3 separate regions of the Homo sapiens genome follow, and regions 1 and 2 are each reported to be linked to region 3. Evidence: microRNA targets listed by miRTarBase, many of them from high-throughput screens and not tested one by one. Region 3 holds a microRNA gene; each other region holds the end of a gene's coding sequence.
The links. Region 3 holds the annotated microRNA hsa-miR-6807-5p (GUGAGCCAGUGGAAUGGAGAGG, at 2,913-2,934, opposite strand). A microRNA usually pairs through its seed, bases 2 to 8, with sites in the 3' UTR of a target mRNA and lowers its output. Matches are read on the target gene's strand: a 7mer-m8 pairs with bases 2 to 8, a 7mer-A1 pairs with bases 2 to 7 and ends in A, and an 8mer does both.

Region 1 (7,100 bases), not on the chromosome of region 3:
GACCACAATGAAAGTGTGTAAAATATGCTTAGAAGTGTCCATGGTAGATGCCTTTAATTTTAAAAATTATGGCTAAAATCAAATATGCACAAAAGTAAAACAGTATAATATTCCCATCACCCATCTTCAACAATTTTCAACACATGGTCAATCTTGTTTCACCTATACCTCCATCCACTTTCTCTCTCCCATATTATTTGAGTACAAATTCCATAAATCTTGTAATTCCATCTGTGAATATTTCAGTATATATCTCTAAAATGTGATAACTCTTTAAAAAATATAACCATAATGCTATTATCACGCCTAGAATAATTTTATATATAAAATATTTAAGATTCAGATATCCATTTGTCTCATAAATGCCACATTTTGTTTCAATGGGATCCAAATAATGTCCACATGTTGTAATTGATTGATGTCTTTTTTTTTTCTTTTTAGAGATGTGGTCTCATTCTGTCACCTAGGCTGGAGTGTGCAGTGGCATGATCATAGCTCACTGCACCCTCCAACTCCCAGGCTTAAGCAATTCTCCCACGTCAGCCTCCCAAGTAGCTAGGACTACAGGCGTATGCCACCTTGCTCTGCTAATTTTTACTTTTTTTGTAGAGACAAGGTCTCACTATGTTACCCGGTTTGGTCTCACCTCCTGGGCTCTAGGGGTTCTTCCACCTTGGCCTCCTAAAGTGCTGGGATTACAGGCATGGGCCACCATGCTCGGCAACCGATGTCCTCTTTTAAGTCTCTTTTAATCTATATATTCCCCCTCTCTTTTTCCCTTGAAACTTATTTGTTGAAAAAAATGAAGTCATTTGCCCTGGAGTTTTCCATGGCCTGGATTTTGCTGATTGCATCCCCTAGGTGTCATTTACCATTTGCCATGATGTCCCCATCCTCTGTATTTCCTGTTATGGTGGTTGGATCTAGAGTTCAGATCACATTCAAGTTTACTTATTTGTAAGACTATTTGATAGGTGGTCTTATGGTCTAGTATCAAAAGGCATTTAATAGCTGTTTGTCTTTTGTGATGTAAGCAGCCATGGATAATCAACCTAGATCCATTAATTCATTAGGGGTTTCAAAATGGTGATATTTTAAGTCTATCATTATTTCTGAATTTATTAGGTGGATTGTTTCTAAAGACAAGTTTCTGTTCCACTACTATTTGGTTACCTGGTAATACAGTTCATATGGGAATGGCATGATAAATGCTTATTCATTTACTTACCAATTTTCAAAATAATGAGGAAGTTTCCTAGTATCCAATTAGTTTCCTCCTTTCCCCTTTCCTTTTTTATCTTTGAGACAGTCTCACTCCATCACCTAGGCTGGAGTGCAGTGGTGCGATCTCAGCTCACTGTAACCTCCGCCTCCCAAGTTCAAGTGATTCTTGTGTCTCGGCCTCCCGAATAGCTAGGATTCCAGGCATGCACCACCACGCCTGGCTGATTTTTGTATTTTTAGTAGAGACGGGATTTTGCCTTGTTGGCCAGGCTGGTCTCAAACTCCTGACCTCAGGTGATCTGCCCACCTCGGCCTCCCAAAGTGCTGGGATTACAGGCGTGAGCCACCGCGTCCAGACACCAATCCGTTTTTTAAAAGTCACAATATGAACTTACAGGTGAGAACACGTTTGACGTGCTTCAAATATGGCAATTATTATTAATGCCCAAATGGTCCTCTCTTTTAGCTAATGGGATTGTCTCTAAGTTTGCTCCCAAGTCTTTCTGACAGGATCCTTGTCTTTGATAGCTTCCTTGGTGTTAAGTGTGATAAGATGTTTCAGGTCTCATGATTTTCCTGCCCTAGACCTGGAACTGATCATTTCTTCAAGGATCCCTAGATCCTTTTAGGGCAAATAGTATTTCAAGACCACAGTCTGGGTCACTGCTGCCGGGTCAGTCTTTATTTCTAGGTCATTTCAGTGGACAGAGTTTTAGGAAATATATACACATATTTTTGAGACAGAGTCTCACTGTGTTGTCCAGGCTGGAGTGCAGTGGCATGATCTTGGCTCACTGTAACCTCCGCTTCCTGGGTTCAAGCAATTCTCCTGCCTCAGCCTTGCGAGTACCCGGGACTACAGGCAGCTGCCACCACACCCGGCTAATTTTGCATTTTGAGTAGAGACAGGATTTCGCCATGTTGGTCAGGCTGGTCTCAAACTACTGGTCTCAGGCAATCCACCCGCCTCGGCCTCCCAAAGTGCTGAGATTACAGGCGTTAGCCACCGCACCTGGCTCAGGTTTTTTTTTTTTTTTTTCCCAGACACAGTCTTGCTCTATCATCCAGGCTGAGTCTAGTAGCACAATCACAGCTCATGGCAGCCTTAAGCTCCCAGGCTCAAGCGATCCTCCCACCTCAGCCTCCCTAGTAGCTAGGACTATAGGTATGCACTACCACATCGGACTAATTTTTTATGTTTTTGTAGAGGCAAGGTCTCACTATGTTGTCCTGTTTGGTCTCAAACTCCTGGCCTCAAGCAATCCTCTTGCCTTGGCCTTCCAAAGTGCTGGGATTACAGGTGTGAGCCACCATGCCTGGCCTGTTCGTTTTTTAACAAAGCTTTATCGAAGTATAATTGACATATGAGAAACTGCACACATTTAAAGTGTATTTAGGTGTGTATACACCCATGAGCCATTCACCACAATCAAGATAGTAGACATATCTGTCACCCCCAAAAGTTTATTTGGGCCTCTTTGTAACCCCTTCCAGCTTCCCTCCTATCCCCTCTCCAGCTATCCCTCCTGTTCTTCAGGAAACTGTATGTTCTAAAACATACATTTCATCATCAATTCATAAGCAATTCAAAATCAGGACTATAGGATTTTAACTTCATCTCTTCTAGTTTAACATCTGAATTTATCTTCTTCCATGCTGAGAGTATGGGTTTTCAGCAACACTGGGAATGACAGAATTAGAATATCATACAATTACTCATTTGCTTTATCCCACATTACAGCAAATGCTTTTTAAATGTTAGTTCCCTTTGATGCTCTACCCCGCTTCCCTTATAAAGGGCAAATAATTCTTCCCCATAATTTTCCCTTCTAATGTTTACAAAGGGCAGAGACAGGTTTCTTCATATTTAACATCCTGAGAGGCTACAACTCTGAGTCCTCAGTCATTTCTGGAAAGGGTCCATGCAGGGATGATCTTGGACTGTGCAACAAATGGTCCTGACAGACAGAAATGCAGTTTGTCCTGGGCTTAGAAAATAAGGAGACCTTCTTGCTGTATGGGGGCTAATAGTAGCGGTGGATAGGTAGACAGGCAATTCCAATCTACTATGGTAACTGCTGCCATAATGGGATGGCACAGAATGCTGTTGGAGCATAATGCAGTGGAGCACTTGTGCCTACCTTGCTCCTGGTATATTAGGGAAGGCTCCCAAGATGAGGGACGTCTAAGCGGGGTCCTGGAGGAAGAGCAGGAATTAGTGATGTTGGCAGTTAACAAAGAGGAGGGAGGAGAAGGCATTTTCAGGTCCAGAAGCAGCAACAGACAAAAGATCCAGAAATAGGAAAGTGTGGTTCCTAGAGAAACTGCAAATGAAGAGTTGACAGTGGCTGGGGTAGTAAAGGGAAGGTGAGAGAGTGTTCTGCTTATCTGCCCCACATGGTGCCTTGTACTCGGCAGGTGCTCACACGTTCTGGTTTCAGAAGACTATACTTTTTTTTTTTTTTTTTTGAGATGGAGTTTCACTCTTGTTACCCAGGCTGGAGTGCAATGGTGCAATCTCAGCTCACTGCATCCTCCACCTCCCGGGTTCAAGTGATTCTCCTGCCTCAGCCTCCTGAGTAGCTGAGGTTACAGGCACCTGCCATTGTGCCCGGCTAATTTTTTTGTATTTTTAGTAGAGATGGAGTTTCGCCACGTTGGCCAGGCTGGTCTCAAACTCCTGACCTCAGGCGATCCACCTGCCTTGGCCTCCCAAAGTGCTGGGATTACAGGCATGAGCCACTGCACCCGGCCAAGAAGAGTACACTTTATAACAGCAATAACAACAATAACAGCTTGTGGCAATTACAAAGTGAAAAGTACTGTGCCAAGAACTTTGCACAAATTATCTCATCTAATCCTCACAACAACCCTCCTAGGCAGGCATTCCCTTTCTGCAGTCAAGAAAGCACGTTCAGAAAGGTCAAGATGCACAGCTACTATGCTGAGTCACACATCCATATGGTGAAGCAGGGCAGGGATTCAAAGGCCCAAATTTTCTCATGCCAAAGCCTAAGCTCCTTCTCTCTTACCTTTCCTTCATCCCCTTTTACATGAGTAATAGCCTCCAAGGGGGTCACCTAGAGTTCTACTCAGGATTCAAGTAAAGATGTGTGTCTGAGGGATGAGCTACATTTCCCAAGATCTGCTTATCTGCTGCTTGGTTTGGGCAAACAGCCATCTGCACCATTTCTTTCCTCTTGGCTGTGACAGGTGAACTGTTCTAGCACAGACCAGGTCACTGCCTTGTGCCTTGAAGCTCAAATGATAAAACCTATGCCCTTCAGCCCAGCTGCTGGTCCTTTGGCAAACCAACCCCTGTGCCTGTGCCCCTCAGTGAAATATCTTCTGTCCCAAAGGGCTGCTGGCACACTGGCTTCATCTGCCTTGGTTTTTCTCAGATTCCACGCAGCTTTCTATCGGAGCATTAATGCATTTATTGGTTTACACATCCTTCTCTTTTTTCCAGATTGTGAGCCCCATAAGGTCAGGGACTGTGTCTTTATTTATCTCTGTATTCACAGGGCCTAGTGCAGGGATGGTACAGAATAGACATCTAGCAAATACCTAATCATCCCCCCCAAGTCCGTTTCTTCCTAGGAGAAAATGGAGGTAACAATATCCATCTTGGGGGACACCAGGAAGGTTAACTGAGATAATGTCTAAACCAGACTTAGCAGAGCACTCAGCACATACTAAGTACTCAATAAATGACATCACCTATGATTACTATTATTATGTTATACAATATTAGATACTCCAGGCCAGGTGTGGTGGCTCACACTTAGAATCCCAGTGCTTTGGAAGGACAAGGCAGGAGGATTACTTGAAGCCAGGAGTTCGAGACCAGCCTGGGCAACACAGTGAGATCCCATCTCTACAAAAAAATTTCTTTAAAAATTAGCCAGACATGGTGGCATACCTGTAGTCCTAGCTACTTGGGAGGCTGAGGTGGGAGGATTGCTTCAGCCCAGGAATTTGAGGTTGCAGTGAGCTATGACTGCGCCACTGCATTCCAGCCTGGACAACAGACTGAGAGTCTGCCTCTAAAAAATTTAATTTAGTTAAAATTAATTAAAAAAAATTTTTTTTTGAGACAGAGTTTCGCTCTTGTTGCCCAGGCTGGAGTGCAATAGCATGGTCTTGGCTCACTGCAACCTCCGCCACCTGGGTTCCAACGATTCTTCTGCCTCAGCCTCCCGAGTAGCTGGGATTACAGGTGCCCGCCACAACATCCAGCTAATTTTTGTATTTTTAGTAGAGATGGGGTTTCACCATGTTGGCCAGGATGGTCTCGAACTCCTGACCTCGTGATCTGCCCACTTCAGCCTCCCAAAGTGCTGGGATTACAGGTGTGAGCCACCACGCCTGGCCTAATTTAAAATTTTTTAATTAAAAAAATTAATTTACATTTAAATCCTGACTTTTGCTATGGTAGGAATGAACTTTACTATTCCTTGTCTCATGAACTGGGAGTGACTAAATGTGTCCCTAGTTGCAGTATTATTTTTTGTTTTCTTATTTCTATTTTAGATTAAATCAGACAACATGTGCATGCTTTACCTATAAAGTTTCTCTCAATTCTTGGACAAAGATTCACTCAAATGAGCTGGAAGGTGAGAGGTTAAGAAGGCAGAAGCCTGGGAGTCACACAGAAACACATTACAGATGTCATGTCCCTGGGCTGAGTTTAGAAAAGACAAGATGTTTGCCAGGCAGAAAGAGGGCATATTGGAAATAGGCTGGCAATCCCAGTGGTTAGAGGAGCAGGAGGCAAAGGTTCAGAGGCAGCATAATAGAAGCGCCTATCAAATTATCAAATTAATAGTTCCACAAAGCTTGTTACAAAAAATTGCACTCCTCTAGGCCCATTTTCCTTTTCCCTCACAACACTTTTCTCTTTTTCCTCTGTCCAATACTTACAGCATTTAATGTGTTGATACATCTGTCTTCCCTCTACCAGATGGTGACTCCCTTGAGAACAGGGACTGTGTCTTATCTACTGTTAATTACCCAGTGTCTACAGCAGAGAACTTCGGAAACCTTTCTAAACCTGGGCTTGCTGCTGCGTAAAATGCAGTGGATAATCCCTACTTCATACGGCTGGTATGAAAGTTTTACCTTTGTATGAGGTCATATTTGTAACATACTTACCAGCATGCACGTAATAAAATACTGAAAGAGTAAATCTATGAATAAATGTAGTGACCCAAGCACCAACTCTCTACTCCTGCTTTTCACTCAGCCTAGGAAAAACTACAACGGAATCCTTCCCCTATGGAGAAATCATGATTCCTATTTCTGTCTTTGGCCACAATTTTCTTATTTTCTTGTTCCACTCCACCTCGTAGCAGAAATATCACGGATTCTGTAGGCGCTTCCTGGTTCTAGGTTGTGGAGCTCCTCAGGGCTTGGAAGTGAGTGGAAAGAAATGTTCAACTTCTGTTTCTCTTCTCTTTCCCTCTCCTCCTTTCCCCTCCTGTGGGGGAAACAAACGAACAAAAACAAAAATTAATTTAAAAAATGTAATTTCTTCAAAGACTTTGCACGTGAGCAGTGGCGTGGCCAGTGGTGATCCTTGTGTGCATGGAATATTGAGGGCGTGCTCCTGCCTCCAGAGAAAGTGGTCGAGCAGGACAGCTGGCATCCACGGCTTCCACATCCCCAGTGCCTCCATCCTTCATCTTTCACCAGTACTGACAGGAACACTGCTGTGTCGGATCTGAACTGGGCCCCAAAAACCTCTAGGTAGCAGGCAGGTACTACTCCATTGGAGGTGACATCCCTCTGGTGACGCTGAAAACCTGGATTGTGTTTTCTAACTCTGTCTATCTGCTTCACACCTCCAGATGTGAATCTTCAGAATATTATTTGCT
Region 2 (7,100 bases), not on the chromosome of region 3:
CCCTCCCAGGAGGTCAGGGAGGGGAGAAGGCAGGTGGGGCTTAAAGTTCCAACCTTCTGGCTGGGTGTGGTGGCTCATGCCTGTAATCCTAGCACTTTGGGAGGCTGAGGCAGGCAGATCACTTGAGGTCAGCAGTTCAAAACCAGCCGGGCCAACATGGTGAAACCCTGTCTCTACTAAAAATACAAAAAATATTAGCCATTCGTGGTGGCACACGTCTGTAGTCCCAGCTACTTGGAAGGCTGAGGCAGGAGAATTGCTTGAGCTCAGGACGCGGAGGTTGCAGTGAACCAAGATTGCACCACCGCACTCCATCCAGCCTGGGCAACACAGTGAGACTCCGTCTCAAACAACAAAAAAAGTTCCAACCCTCTAATCATGCCTTGGTCTTTCTGAGACCCCTTCCCCTAATCCTGAAGCTATCTAGGGACCCCCAGCCATTAGTCATGTCATTAGCATGCAAAAGATACGTTTTGTTTTTTTTTTGTTTTTGTTTTTGTTTTTTTGATACCTAGTCTCCCTCTGTCACCCAGGCTGGAGTGCAGTGGCATGATCTTGGCTCACTGCAACCTCTGCCTCCCGGGTTCAAGCGATTCTCCTGCCTCAGCCTCCTGAGTAGCTAGGATTACAGGTGCCCGCCACCACACCCGGCTAATTTTTGTATTTTAGTAGAGACAGAGTTTTGCCATGTTGGCCAGGCTGGTCTCAAACTCCTGACCTCAGGTGATCCACCCTCCTCGGCCTCCCAAAGCGCTGGGATTACAGCCATGAGCCATGGCGCCCGGCCAAGATACCCTTATTCCTTCAGAGATTCCAAGAGTTTGGGGAGCTATGTGCCAGGAACTGGGGACAATGAACAAATATTTATTATTATACCACAGCTGAAATGCCATCTTGTAGAGTCCTTTCCTGGCCACCGTTTTTGAAGTAGCACAGATACTGATCACTCATAGCAGCCTGTCATATTGCCCAAGTTTGACATTTTCTTGCATCTGTGCGTGTTCAGTAGGCTTTTTCTTCAACTCGAACGTAAGTTCCGTGATCCTAGGTTTGGGTCTGTCCCGCTCACCACGCTATCCCAGCACCTGGCACATAGTAGATGTACAGTAAATACTACGTGAATAAGCATGTGCATGACTCAGTGATGCTGAGGGGTGACCCTCAATACAGCAAGGCATCCCTCACCTGGCCGTGACCCCTTCTTCTGTGTATTGTCTTTCTCCAGGTGAACCAGAACAGCACCTCCTCCCACTTAGGAAGCTCGTGATTTCCAGGTAAGCCTGTGGACTTCACTGGGGGTTCCCGCTGCTTCTGGGTGGCCCCGGAGCCACTTTTCTGAAAAGCCACTTTTCTGTCCTTCCAGAGCCTCCCTGGGGTAGACATGTCCACTAGGGTGGGCTGACCCAGCCCCATCAGAGGTTTCCATGGTGACAGACTGGGGGTGCTATTTATAGAATCAAGGCTTAGTTTTCTAGCTCTGGATCAAGGACAGGGAGAGGGATTAACGCTGAACCAACCAGAAAAAGGTTTGTCTGACACTGGGGACAGGGCAGGAAGCACCACTATGATGGGGGAGGGGGAGATTCTGGAACCATTTTTGCACAGAATGCTGTCTGCCAGTCTGGCTTCTAAAAACAGCATCAGCGTTGGGCCAGAGCAATTAATGTTCTAATAACAGTCACAAGTCGTTCTGTTCTAAGAATAACCCCCATGGCCGTTGGGCCAGGTACTGGTCCTGTGTTACTCATTTAACCCTCAGCATCCTTGGGAGGCGGATGACATGATCATTCCATTTTACAGAAGAGAAAACCAAAGCACAGAGAAGGAAGGGCTTTGACTTGCCCAAGGCTACACAGCCACCAAGGGACAGAATTCCTCCCAGGTTTGCTTTTAGTGAATGATTTTAAGTGCACATTTATCCATCCATATTCTACTAAGGGGTGGGGAAAGGGATTTTTTTGAACTTGGTAATTCAAAGATTTAAGATCTCCAGGTTTAACTCCCTTCAGCCCCTGTTTTCTTCATCTGGAGAATGGGGATTCATCATTGCCCACCTCTGAGGTTGGCCATGAGATGGCGTGAGCTGGCCCAGGTGGGAGTGCTTGGAAACCGTGAAGTGCTGGGCCCTCGCTGTGGACTTGGGCACTGGAGTTAAGGCTGCATGAGTGAGCTCACTTCCTTCTGTCCCCCAGCCTCTATGATCAGGTTAAAGGAAACCTCAAGAGAGGTTATTTTACATGGAAACACCTTCCAGCTTGGACTCTTATTTTTAGTCTCTGTATCTATTTTTAAACAATCAGCATATGTTTTAGTTTTTCTTTCAATTTACTTTGCTCCAACCTGCAAGGACTCTGTCATTATTAGGGTTCCCATCTTGAGTTGCACTAAGATCCCAGAGTTTTTGTTTTTGAGACAGAGTCTCACCCTGTTCCCCAGGCTGGAGTGCAGTGGCACGATCTCAGCTCACAGCAATCTCCACCTTCTGGGGTTCAAGTGACTCTCGTGCCTCAGCCTTCCAAGTAGCTGGGGTTACAAGTGTGCGCTACCACACCCAGCTAATTTTTGTATTTTTAGTAGAGACGGGGTTTCACCATGTTGGCCAGGCTGGTCTCAAACTCCTGGCCTCAAGTGATCTGCCCACCTCAGCCTCCCAAAGTGCTGGGATTACAGGCATGAGCCACCACACCTACCCAAGATCCCATAGTTCTATTCCAAAGAAAAGAACCCTCTCATGAAAAACAGCTTTCCTCCCTGTTCCTCACTAACTGTTCCCTCGCTGCCTTTCTGCAGATCATTAGTAGAATCCTGGACCTTCTCATTGACAAAAGCAGATTTGTTACTTGTTTTACTGTTTAAATGAGATACCATATAGAGGTGCTTTAGCTGAATCCTGGGTACAGAGTTGGCCTTGAACAAACATGAGTCCTTCTCTTGCCTCCAAGAATTCATCAGTATTTATCACATAATCACTGTCATTTGCTCTGTGTCCATAAGAAAAGTGTATATTTGAGGTCAAGTGGATGCAAGATGAGATGTGGGGAAGAACCCAGGAAACGTTTTTAAATTTAAACTCTCTCTGGCCATCTGGGATGCATTCTTAAAACATTACATGCTTATGCGAATGGATGAAGACAGTATGTTCTGCAATCACATGTATAAATATAAATGATCTATTTCAGAATTGTTACTCTGAGCCTAACACAGTCTTCCCCACTTTCAGATCTCCGCAAATGACTTCATTGCCAAGAAGAGAAGAAAATGCATTTAAGTGGAAATCGGACCTCTAATCCAAGCATATTGCTTGCTATTAATCGCCAAAACAGGACTGCTGATGAGGAATGTATTTGCATATGTTTGCAAAAGCTGAATCATTGAAAACGTACCTTGAAACTCTCTATCTCTGGACACTCCAGGGTAGAGAATGAAGGGTATGGAAGTAGTCCGGCTTTTGAAACTTAGGTATTTTATATTTTTCCCCTCAAGAACTTTTTTTTAAGAGACAGATTTGCCATCCTCCTTAATTTGCAGGACTGCCTTGGTGGCTTTGTTTGCTGGGACAAGGCCCACAACCTGTGCCTCTCCTATTGACCCTTACTTTGAATTCAAAGAATCTATTTAAGAGTTTAATATATGAGGCTTTCTTTGATTCCTCCTCAGTTCTACCTAGTTTCACAGAGGAAAAAAATACTCTTTGAATAAAGTGAACAGAGGCTCATTTGTTTGTGCCTTACTTTACTGAATGAATAGGGTTTTTTTTTTCTTTCCATACTGGATTTTGTCAGGTAGATTTGTGATGAGCAAAAAGCTGGAGAATATAGGTGCATGTAAGGCACAGCTGAATTCCTGTGTCAGGGTCCCCAGGGCCACCCCCAGGATCGATGATTGGCTAGAAGAACTCAGAATTCAGAAGAGCTATTATCCTTATGGTTATGGTTTATTACAGCAAAAGGATAAACATTAAAATCAGCAAAAGAGGCCGGGTGGAGTGGCTCACGCCTGTAATCCCAGCACTTTGGGAGGCCAAGGCAGGCAGATCGCCTGAGGTCAGGAGTTCGAGACCAGCCTGGCCAACATGGTGAAACCCCGTCTCTACTAAAAATACAAAAATTACCTGGGCGTGGTGGTGTGCACCTGTAATCCCAGCTACTCAGGAGGCTTGAACCTGGGAGGCGGAGGTTGCAGTGAGCGGAGATCGTGCCATTATACTCCAGCCTGGGTGACAGAGCAAGACTCCATCTCAAAATAAAATCAACAAAAGAAAAAGGTGCATAGGGCAGAGTCCGGGAGAGACCGGCCTCAAGCTTCCAGTTGTCATCTCCTGGTAGAGTCTTACAGACACACTTAATTTTCCCAGCAATGATATGTGACAACACGTACTAAATATTACCAGCCAGAAAGCTCACCCTAGCCTTGGGGTCTAGGTTTTTATTGCATGTCAGTCACATAGGGCAATCACATGACCGACTTTAGTTACTTAATCACCAGCTGCTCCAGAGGTCAAAATGATACAGCATGGCCCAAGGTCCCCACCATAAATCACATTATTAGCACAAACTATCTGGCCTGGTATGGCCCAAGGCCTGAGGTATACAAAGACACCCCTACTTGGGAGGATATTCCAAGGACTTAGAGGTTATCTCCCAGGAGCCCATTAAGGCCAGTTTTTTCTTTGAGATGTGCTGGGTTTGGACACTTCAAGCCTGCTGAGTTAACCCTTATAGCACAGTCCCCAAATGCTGAGGGACCAACTGGGCCTACAATAAGTTTGTATCTTTAAGGGTTAAGGTGTTTTACCCATACCTCCTTGCCTTATATCTCATGATAATATGAGGCTTTTGGAAGGCAGTGACTTATTGTGGCTTGGGGCATGGGTTTTTGGAGTCAGGCTGACCTACTGGCTGTATGGCTTGAGACTTTGTCTCTTCATCTGTAAAATGGGGAAGTTAAAACTTCATGGTGTGTATGTGTGTATGTGTGTGTTTAGACAGAATCTCGCTCTGTCACTCAGGCTAGAGTACAGTGGCGTGATCATAGCTCACTGCAGCCTCGGTCTCCTAGGGTCAGGTGATCCTCCCATCTTAGCCTCCTGAGTAGCTGGGCATGTGCCACCACACCTGGCTACTTTTTAAATTTTTTTTTTTCTGTAGAGACGAGGTCTTTCTATGCTGTTCAGGCTGAACTTCATGGGTTTATTGGGGATGGCTAATGGATGACATTGGCGGTGGTCCTTGATACCAGATAAGCCCTCAGTGTGAAGCAGCTCTTATTTTTCCTTGTCTTGAGATTGCTCTGGAATGGAAATTAGGCTTTTTTGAAGGTGTGACCCTTTTTGTTCATTTCTTCAGCAGTTACTTTTTATTTTTTAAATGTTTGACACACAGTCTCTGATAAATGATCATTCACCAATCACCGATTACTCTCCTTGCTCTGTTAAGTGTGACACTGTCCCTTTGAGAATCTGGCGACAGCTATGTATCCCATCACCACACACCCCAAAAAAAAAATTTATGTCTGGTTCCAGGAGTTACCTTTTATGAGAAGTCCATCTGTGAAGACCCTGGATGTTCAGAGAACTTCCTGGGAAAACACTGAAAGAAAATAAAGAGGCCGGGCCCGGTGGCTCATGCTTGTAATCCCAGCACTTTGGGAGGCTGAGGTGGGCAGATAAGCTGAGGTCAGGAGTTCCAGACCAGCCTGGCCAACGTGGCGAAACCCCATCTACTAAAAATACAAAAATTAGCTGGGCGTCGTGGCGCATGCCTGTAGTTGCAGCTACTTGGGAGGCTGAGGCAGGAGAATTGCTTGAACCCAGGAGGCAGAGGTTGCAGTGAACCAAGATCATGCTAGTACACTCCAGCCTGGGCAACAGAGTGAGACTCCATCTCAAAAATAAAATAAATAAAACAAAATAAAATAAATACAATTTCTGTTTCTAGCCCCTAAGTGGTAGCACTGGGTCTTGTTCCCTGAAAAAAACTAGGCTCAGAATCCACTCTCATTTCATCTCCCCTGATTTGATCTGAAAAGATTTTGTTTAGAGTACTACATGAATATATTATAAAACATGGGACAATCAGAATTGATAGTAAGAAGGCAAGTGGCTCTATTTGTACTTCCTCTCAATAGCTCCTAAAGGTAATGCTACCATTTTCTGTTTGTACATAGTCTTCCAGACTTTAAATTTTTGAACATATAAATATTATCATCTTAAAGACGTATGGAAAAAACCATTTTGAATAGGTTATTCCAAAATGTAATTTAACAGATTGCTCTGGAGGATTGTTTGTTTGTTTGTTTTGGAGACAGAGTCCCGCTTGGTTGCTCAGGCTGCAGTGCAGTGGCACAAACACAGCTCACTGCAACCTCTAACTCCTGCAAACACAGCTCACTGCAACCTCTAACTCCTGCAAACACAGCTCACTGCAACCTCTAACTCCTGCAAACACAGCTCACTGCAACCTCTAACTCCTGCAAACACAGCTCACTGCAACCTCTAACTCCTGGGCTCAAGCAGTCCTTTCACCTCAGCCTCCTGAGTAGCTGGACCATGACACCTACCTAACTTTTTATTTTTTGTAAAGAGGGGAATCACTATGTTGCCCAGGCTGGTCTCAAACTCCTGGGCTCAAGCAATCCTTCCTCAGCCTCTCAAAGAGTTGGGTTTACAGGCGTGAGCCACCGCACCTGGCTCCTGGAGCATTTCTGATGTGAACATGTGCTGATCTAACACCACTCCTTTTACCAGCTGCCTGTTCTAGAGCAAACCATCTTTTTTGAGCATTCCACTTTGGCTAGGCCCTTAGGCTGTTAGCAGTTTTCATCGCTACTGGCAAAGCTGCAGTGGACGTTCTCCTGCACATATAACCTCTTGATGCCACTGTATGAGTGAGTCTCTGCAAAATGAGAAGTAGAATTGCTGGGGTGAAAGGCATACATACTAACTTTTTTGATTAATTCCACCCATGTACCCTGATTTGGGCAGAATTTTAATCTCACTGTGAAATCAGAGCTTTGTTCTAGAGCCTTTCTTGGGGGTTCCATGGATCAGTGGGTCAGCCGTCACTTGTGCCCTGGCCCATCCTCTGTCCAGCTTGGGCAGC
Region 3 (7,102 bases):
GGGCATGGTGGTGCATACTTGTTATCCCAGCTATTCGAGAGGCTGAGGCAGAAGAATCGCTTGAGGCCGGGAGGCACAGTTTGCAGTGAGCCAAGATTGTGCCACTGCACTCCAGCCTAGGCAACAAAGCAAGACTCCAACTCAAAAAAAAAAAAAAGGTAAGGGTAAGCTATAAGCTATGGCCAAGAGGCTGGTAAGAGACAGCCGGAACCAGTAGGGAGAGCATGAAGAAGGAACACAGCCTTTGATGGGTGAGAGGGTTTTGGCCTGAACAGGTAGGCAGAGAAGATACCATTTCTTGGGATGGGCAAGAAAGATGTTTGGAGAGGAAATCAAAAGCTGAGCCTCAGATAGGTCTGTATGTGATTCTGGATAGTTCGAGGTATGGGTTTGTATCAGGTGAAGGAAGAGACAGATTCTTTGTCTAGGCTGGGAATAAAAATTGAGGAATGGCTGTTGTAAGTCAAAAGAATGACTGAAAACATGGAGGGAAAAGGAACCCTCAGGAGTGAGCCTGGGGCCTTTCTTTTACCATTTACAGATCAAGAGAAGTGAGGAGGACCTTACAAAGGAGCCCAGGGAGTTGGTGGCCCAAGAGGCAGAGGAGGGTTAGGTCAGAAGGAGGGAGGGACCAGTGACCATTGGGTTAGCCAGAGTCTCTGGAAACTTCAAGTGGAATTGCAAATTGGGCTGGTGGGGAGGGACAACCAACTAATGGGGTGTCAAGAAGTGTAGGATAATCTCATTCCTGTGTCCTTGATACCCTTGTCTACTCTGCAGGATGCTGTTCGCATCATGGCAAAAGACTTGGTGCGCACCCGGCGCTATGTGCGCAAGTTTGTATTGATGCGGGCCAACATCCAGGCTGTGTCCCTCAAGATCCAGACACTCAAGTCCAACAACTCGATGGCACAAGCCATGAAGGGTGTCACCAAGGCCATGGGCACCATGAACAGACAGGTGCGCTTTTCCCAATCCCCCTTCCCACTCCCACGACCCATGGGGATCACACTCACACTCCTGTCACTTCCAGCTGAAGTTGCCCCAGATCCAGAAGATCATGATGGAGTTTGAGCGGCAGGCAGAGATCATGGATATGAAGGAGGAGATGATGAATGATGCCATTGATGATGCCATGGGTGATGAGGAAGATGAAGAGGAGAGGTATGGGGAAACTGGATGGGAGGGTGGAGATGTTTGCCTGGCCCTCACGGAGTGCATAGCCCTCACTGAGTTCTCTCTCTTCCCTAGTGATGCTGTGGTGTCCCAGGTTCTGGATGAGCTGGGACTTAGCCTAACAGATGAGCTGTCGAGTGAGTGCTCCAAATCCTGGACCCCATTTCCCACCCAAGGCCCAGCCACAGCTCCAAGCCCTCCCTTTCCCTGCATTACTCCCCTCCGCTGCCTGACCCCACCTGCTCAAACCCCCACTTTCTCTGCAGACCTCCCCTCAACTGGGGGCTCGCTTAGTGTGGCTGCTGGTGGGAAAAAAGCAGAGGCCGCAGCCTCAGCCCTAGCTGATGCTGATGCAGACCTGGAGGAACGGCTTAAGAACCTGCGGAGGGACTGAGTGCCCCTGCCACTCCGAGATAACCAGTGGATGCCCAGGATCTTTTACCACAACCCCTCTGTAATAAAAGAGATTTGACACTAGTCTCCAGGCCCATGTGACTTTTGGCCTGATGTGGGACCAGACTGGGGTCCCTGGGAGGATGGGCATCACTAAGGCAAGAGGCACTTGGTACTAAGCTAAGGGTGGGGGTTTGGGGCAGGGGTGAACAAGCAAAGTCCACCTGGGATTTTCAGGAGCTGGGAGCTTCAGGTGAGCTGTGGGCCCTTCTCCATCACCTCTCCCAAGATACTGGACTGCCCAAACACCCTGGTAGGATCTTGAGAGTCCAGGCCTCATCTGCCAGGCTGTAGTGTCCAACACTGTTTGGTCCAGTGATGGTTTAATGACAACACTCAAGGACAGTCCAGACCAACCAATAGAGGCAAGGGGGTGGCCTTGGGATTCACACAGGCTCGACTGTAGAGTAACTAAATCATAACACAGAGATGAATGATAATGTTAAGTGGACTCAGCAAAGGGAGACAGGGAAAAAAACCACATCTGGAAGGTCTCAGTTCACTGTGGGACCTTCTGAAGATGAGAAACAGCTACAGCACCAAAATTTAGGAAGCATTCAGTAGAGTGGCTGTGCTACACCTGGGGCTAACCCTGCCTACACAGGGATGTAGGTCACACCTACCCAGTATCCCACAGGGTACCCAACAAGCCTCTAGTGTGTACATCCTTTGCCCTGGGTGACCCTCCCCATACCCAGAAAGGGCAAGGAGGCAGTCTTCCCCACTCCCTAGGCATCCATACACATGGGCTTCGATAGGTGGGGGACAAGACCCCCCTCCCTTGTGCCACCAGTGCTTGATAAGGCTGACTAGTAGATACAGTCAATAAACCAGGCCCCAGGACCACAGTCCCCCAACCAGCCAACGCCTGAGGAACTGGTGAAGTTTTTATTAAATCCACAGAAGTAAAAACCATATCGTGAGGAACTGGGGGATGGGGCCACCAGGGAGTGGGAGTCAGGCCACCAGGGGAGTGGGGATGGGGTGACAGGACAGAGAACAGAGCCAGGCTGGGCTGGCCATGGGGGCTCCAGCCTCAGGGGCCATCACCAGGGCCACCAGACAGCTCCTGGGAACTCAGGCCAGCACCAGGCAGGCTCATCGGCGGGGGCTCCACCAGCACAGCAGAGAACTTGGTGTCACCGAAGGCCTCGTTCATGCGCGTCTCGAAGAAGCGCTGCAGGCCGATGATGGACTGCACGTCTGCCTTGTCCTGGGCCAAGCAGGAATGCAGTGGATGAATGGGTCCTAGTTCTTTCCTTCACATCTCCCCCTGCCCACAGCCTCTCCATTCCACTGGCTCACCTCAGTTAACTTGTTGAATTGCTTGAACATGCGGCCCACATCCTGGGCAAACTCCTGTGGGGAGCTGTAGGGAGGTGACAACTTCTCCTGGAGGCGGGCACGGATCAGGGTCAGATCCAGGGTGCCACCGGGCTGGTCCTGCAGGCAGAGATCACACATACACACACAAAGACACACATATACATGCACAGGTTGAGGGCGAGACCCAGCAGCCACCACCCCCTTCCCCTTTCCCATCCTAGGACTCACCAGGGAGAAGGTGGAGTCGGTAGCCAGCTGATGCAGGGGGCGGCAGGGTTCGTGACAGAATAGGGCCAGCAGTACACGCTCACATTTCTACAAACATTGTAAGGGATGTCACAGCTCTGGGCAGCACCTATAAAGCCTCTCTGGGCAACCCCACCTAAGTAACCCCAGCCCTCACCCGCTGGTTGGCTGGTGAGAGCTTGGCCACCACGCCAGTGCTGTCTGCACCATCCAGGCTGAGGCTGCCATCCTCCTCCTTCAGGTCAGGGAGCACATGGCAGAGTGAGCAGCTCCACTCCTCCCTAGGGTGAAGAAAATAAGGGTCTGCACATGATCCTGTCCAGACAGCCCAACACCCAGACTTGACCCCCACCAGCCTCACACTCACCCTGGTACATCCTGCAGGGCCGGCAGGTGACAGTCCAGGTGGAAACAAAACTCACACTGGTTGCACATAACCAGATCGCCTGGCTTCTGGCAGACACGGCAAATGGTGGCACTGTCATCCAGGGTTCCCGGGCCACCACCTGGGGCTGAGGTACCCTCAGGAGCCACCACCTCCAGCCCTGAGCTGGTGCTGCCACTAGGTGAGGCCAGGCGGGGACCCTCAGCACCAGGACCCTCCGCAAGAGCCATAAGCACAGGTTTGGTCTCAGGGCCCTCAGTGGCAGTAGGAGGGGCTCCAATGGCAGCCTCCGTCTCCTCCTCCTGCAAGGTGGTGATGAGGGGTGTTCAACAGGGTCCAGACCTGGACTACAGGCTTCATCCTACAGCTATAGTTCCTTGGGACAGGCTTACCTTGACAATGGCCATGCCAGCCAGGGGTGGGGCACCAGGGGTTCCTGCAGGCGCAGTCCCTGGCTGGCCGGTAGCTGCAGCGGCAGCGCCACGTTCAATAACAATAAGGTTGTAGTCCTCAGTGGTACTGCCTGGGAAGACCTTGAAGACGGGTGGCTGGCTGTCAGCTGTGAGGTCCAGGTCCAGGCGTTCAAGGCTCACTCGTGGCACCTTGCGCATAAGGCCGCTCACCTCGCCCTCACCTGAGCGGGACCTGTAGATGCAGCAACCTGGCATGAGTACACCCCCACCCTCCATCCACCTCACCCCCAGGGGAGGTGCCATACTTACCGTTTCACACCTGACACATGGGGCTCTGCACTTGAGTAGGGATCATCTCCTTAGAAAATGGAGAAAGAAGACTGGCAGGTTGGGGTAGAAACAGCACTGGGGCCCTTCCCCACCCACTAGGCAGACCCACTCACCTGACCCAAAGCCATAGCCTTCCTGCACCTCCATGGGCTGTGAACAAAGCAGAACCCTCTGCCTCAGTGGGACAGGAACCCTACTGGACCCCATTCCCTGCCCACCCCCCCTGCCTGGGTCCTCTCTCCTGCTACTGGACCCCATTCCCTGCCCACCCCTTCCTGGGTCCTCTCTCCTGCTCACCTGGCTGCTGCCAGAGCCCTGCTTGCTCAGGGGCCCTGGGGCTCTTGGAGGGGCCATGGGTGCAGGGCCTGTTGAGTTAGTGCCAGGACGCTCTGCCACAATCTTGCCTGCAAAAAGAAGAGAGAAACGTAAGTAGGTGCAGCACGTGGGGTAATAACAGAGTGAGGTAAAGCTGGGGACCCACCAAAGGCCTCGGCACTCTTGGTCCAGGCATTGAGGTCCCACTGAAACTTCATCTCGCCATGTGGCTCCACGGGATCCACAATCATCTTGAGGGCCCGGTGCAGCTGGAAGTAGATCTGGTTGGGAGTGAAAGGGAGGAAAGAATGAGCACACCAACAACAAATAGGGATTTGAGGTATTGGGAACCACCTGCCTGGAACCCACCAGCCAGGAGCCCACCAGTACACACCAACTTCTTAGAAAGCAAAAGGGCTGTGTTGTTGTCACTCTCCAGAGCCCAAGAGGCAAAGCGCAGAATGTGCTCCTGGTGCTTCTGGATCTTGGTCATGGTCCAGTGCTGCCGCTCCAGGCGCTCCTGCTGCCCCTCAGTCACCTTCTGCAGATAGAAGGTGTATGAGGTAAGCAGAGAAGGCAGAAGAATACTAGGATCACTCCTCACCCCAGACAGCATCATCAATCAGCAGAGGGGGCTCAGGGACCCTTCTCACCGGCACAAGGCTTACCTGGGCATCATTGACCAGCACACGGCCCCGCTTATTCAGCTCCTTCATGATCTGCAGGATGGCCATCTTGACATCCACTTGCACACGCTTCTGTACGTCAGACACCTGGCGGATTCTAGGGGACACAGCAGGTCAGGCTAGGTAGGGTCTTGCTGCCCTGGGCCACCCCCACAGCCCCAGAACCCACACTTACGAGCTGCGAACCTCCTTGGTGCTCTTCTGCAATGTTGCATGTTTGTCCCCAAGGCGCTTCACCAGTGAGGCCAGGAGCTTGCGCTGGTTCCTCACTGCATCCTCTAAGAACTGGTACCTGAGAGCAGACAGATGTGTTCCTGAGCACTAAGCTACGGAAGGGGTGGCACCCACCCACCCAACCACTATGCCTTGGGACTCACTGGTGGTCCTTGTGGGCATTGAGCTGGCAGTCTCGGCAGGTGAGAGTATCACAGCTCTCACAAAACAGCACAAGGGGTTCATGCTTGTGTACGTTGCAATAGACAGTACGTTCACCATCCCGAGACTTGGCTGGCCCTGGGGAGTGGGAATCATAAGGCTGGACCTTGCCCTTCACCACCCCCAACTCAGGAAGCAGAATGAGTTGGGGCCTCATTTCCGGCCTGTTCTGTGACACTGGGCCATTTATTGGGAAGATGTAGAGGGTGTGGCCAGGGAAGAACACAGGCCTGCAAGCCCAACTCCTTGCTCCCAGAATCCTCTGCCCCAACATAGCTGAGAAACACATCCCTTTCTTCTAGCTTCTAGAGATAACAACAATGTAAGGGTAAGGATAACAGCGTCTAGAAAAAGAGGACCACCCCACCCCACCCCCCACCCCCGCTGACCCTTCCCCACACTGTTCCCTTTACTGAACACTTCTCCAAGTGGACATACTCAGAATTCTGCCTACACACCACCCTGGATTCCTTTTCTTCTCCTTTCATGGTTAACTTCCTCCCTCTTCCCTGACAAGAGAACACCAGGGTCTCTTACAATCCAAGGGCCCAGAGGAAACCTTGTAGAGGTTCTCATACTGGGAGAGATGAAATGTCAAACCAGGACCCTCAGAATGGTGGTCACACCCCCTCTAGAGCAGAATCTTGGTGCTCAGCATAATCCCACCCAAAGACCAACCCATTAATAACCTCCAAAGCCTGTCTCCCCATTAGAAAACTGATCAAACACACTGGTCCCACATACCAACCAAATCCAAAATATGTAGCATCAGGGCTCATTGGGGAAACTGACTTCCCCAATGCCACTCATTCCTGCACCCTGACCTTTGCCTGGGACGTCTGGAATGTAGGACACCCTGCAGCCCCTGCGTATCCCTCCTGGCTGCTCAGGCCCCACAGCCACCACCTTCCCGCTATCTTCCACCAATGCTGTCCTCTGGGATGGGAAGAATCACAGTATGGCTACCAAAAGGCCACTCATGGGAGGATTCTGGCCCCAAAACTTGGCTAGACTCAAAAGACTCTCAAGCTCCTTCCAAACCAAAGCTAGCTGTGTCTGTGAAAAGCTGGAAATGCCAAACCAAACTTTGGGTAAGTCTCTGCCAACTCAAAAGCTAAAACACTTCCAAAAATCATCATCACTTATAATCCATGGACCCACAGTCTACTTTCCCTAGCAGCATCTTATACCAGATGTGTGCCAGGGAACCACAAACCCAGAAAGCCCTTCACACCATGCCTTTCCCTGTTTGCATATGCTGAGCCCTTCACCACCAGGTCTGACAACTCCCTGATAAGCCTTCTCAAACCCTTTGTACCTCCCTGCAGCACATTAAG

Region 1: the mRNA of FAM227A is a reported target of hsa-miR-6807-5p. Seed matches in the 3' UTR shown: 7mer-m8 at 5,580-5,586, 7mer-m8 at 3,960-3,966, 7mer-m8 at 2,637-2,643, 7mer-m8 at 2,528-2,534 and 7mer-m8 at 1,564-1,570.
Region 2: miRTarBase lists TPST2 as a target of hsa-miR-6807-5p. Seed matches in the 3' UTR shown: 7mer-m8 at 3,987-3,993, 7mer-m8 at 5,618-5,624, 7mer-A1 at 6,504-6,510 and 7mer-A1 at 6,623-6,629.

What each region holds. Positions count from the first base shown.
Region 1 is chr22:38,579,497-38,586,596 of GRCh38, forward strand. It overlaps FAM227A (family with sequence similarity 227 member A), which reads right to left. Exons shown (of 17, transcript NM_001013647.2): 17 at 1-6,703. The coding sequence ends at 6,629. Among named protein-coding and RNA genes, the nearest start is that of DMC1, 13 kb to the left of the region's middle. RefSeq lists an enhancer at 3,521-3,570 and a silencer at 6,115-6,315.
Region 2 is chr22:26,522,388-26,529,487 of GRCh38, reverse strand. TPST2 (tyrosylprotein sulfotransferase 2) reads left to right here. Exons shown (of 7, transcript NM_003595.5): 6 at 1,226-1,274; 7 at 3,221-7,100. The coding sequence ends at 1,267. Among named protein-coding and RNA genes, the nearest start is that of TFIP11-DT, 13 kb to the right of the region's middle.
Region 3 is chr19:58,546,117-58,553,218 of GRCh38, reverse strand. It overlaps MIR6807 (microRNA 6807), which reads right to left and starts at 2,934; the gene lies at 2,843-2,934. TRIM28 (tripartite motif containing 28) reads right to left here. Exons shown (of 17, transcript NM_005762.3): 4 at 5,708-5,843; 5 at 5,506-5,622; 6 at 5,313-5,427; 7 at 5,039-5,185; 8 at 4,811-4,925; 9 at 4,627-4,733; 10 at 4,443-4,479; 11 at 4,309-4,357; 12 at 3,979-4,231; 13 at 3,569-3,888; 14 at 3,359-3,482; 15 at 3,184-3,270; 16 at 2,935-3,072; 17 at 2,504-2,842. The coding sequence ends at 2,666. It overlaps CHMP2A (charged multivesicular body protein 2A), which reads left to right. Exons shown (of 6, transcript NM_014453.4): 3 at 781-960; 4 at 1,034-1,164; 5 at 1,252-1,313; 6 at 1,443-1,653. The coding sequence ends at 1,570.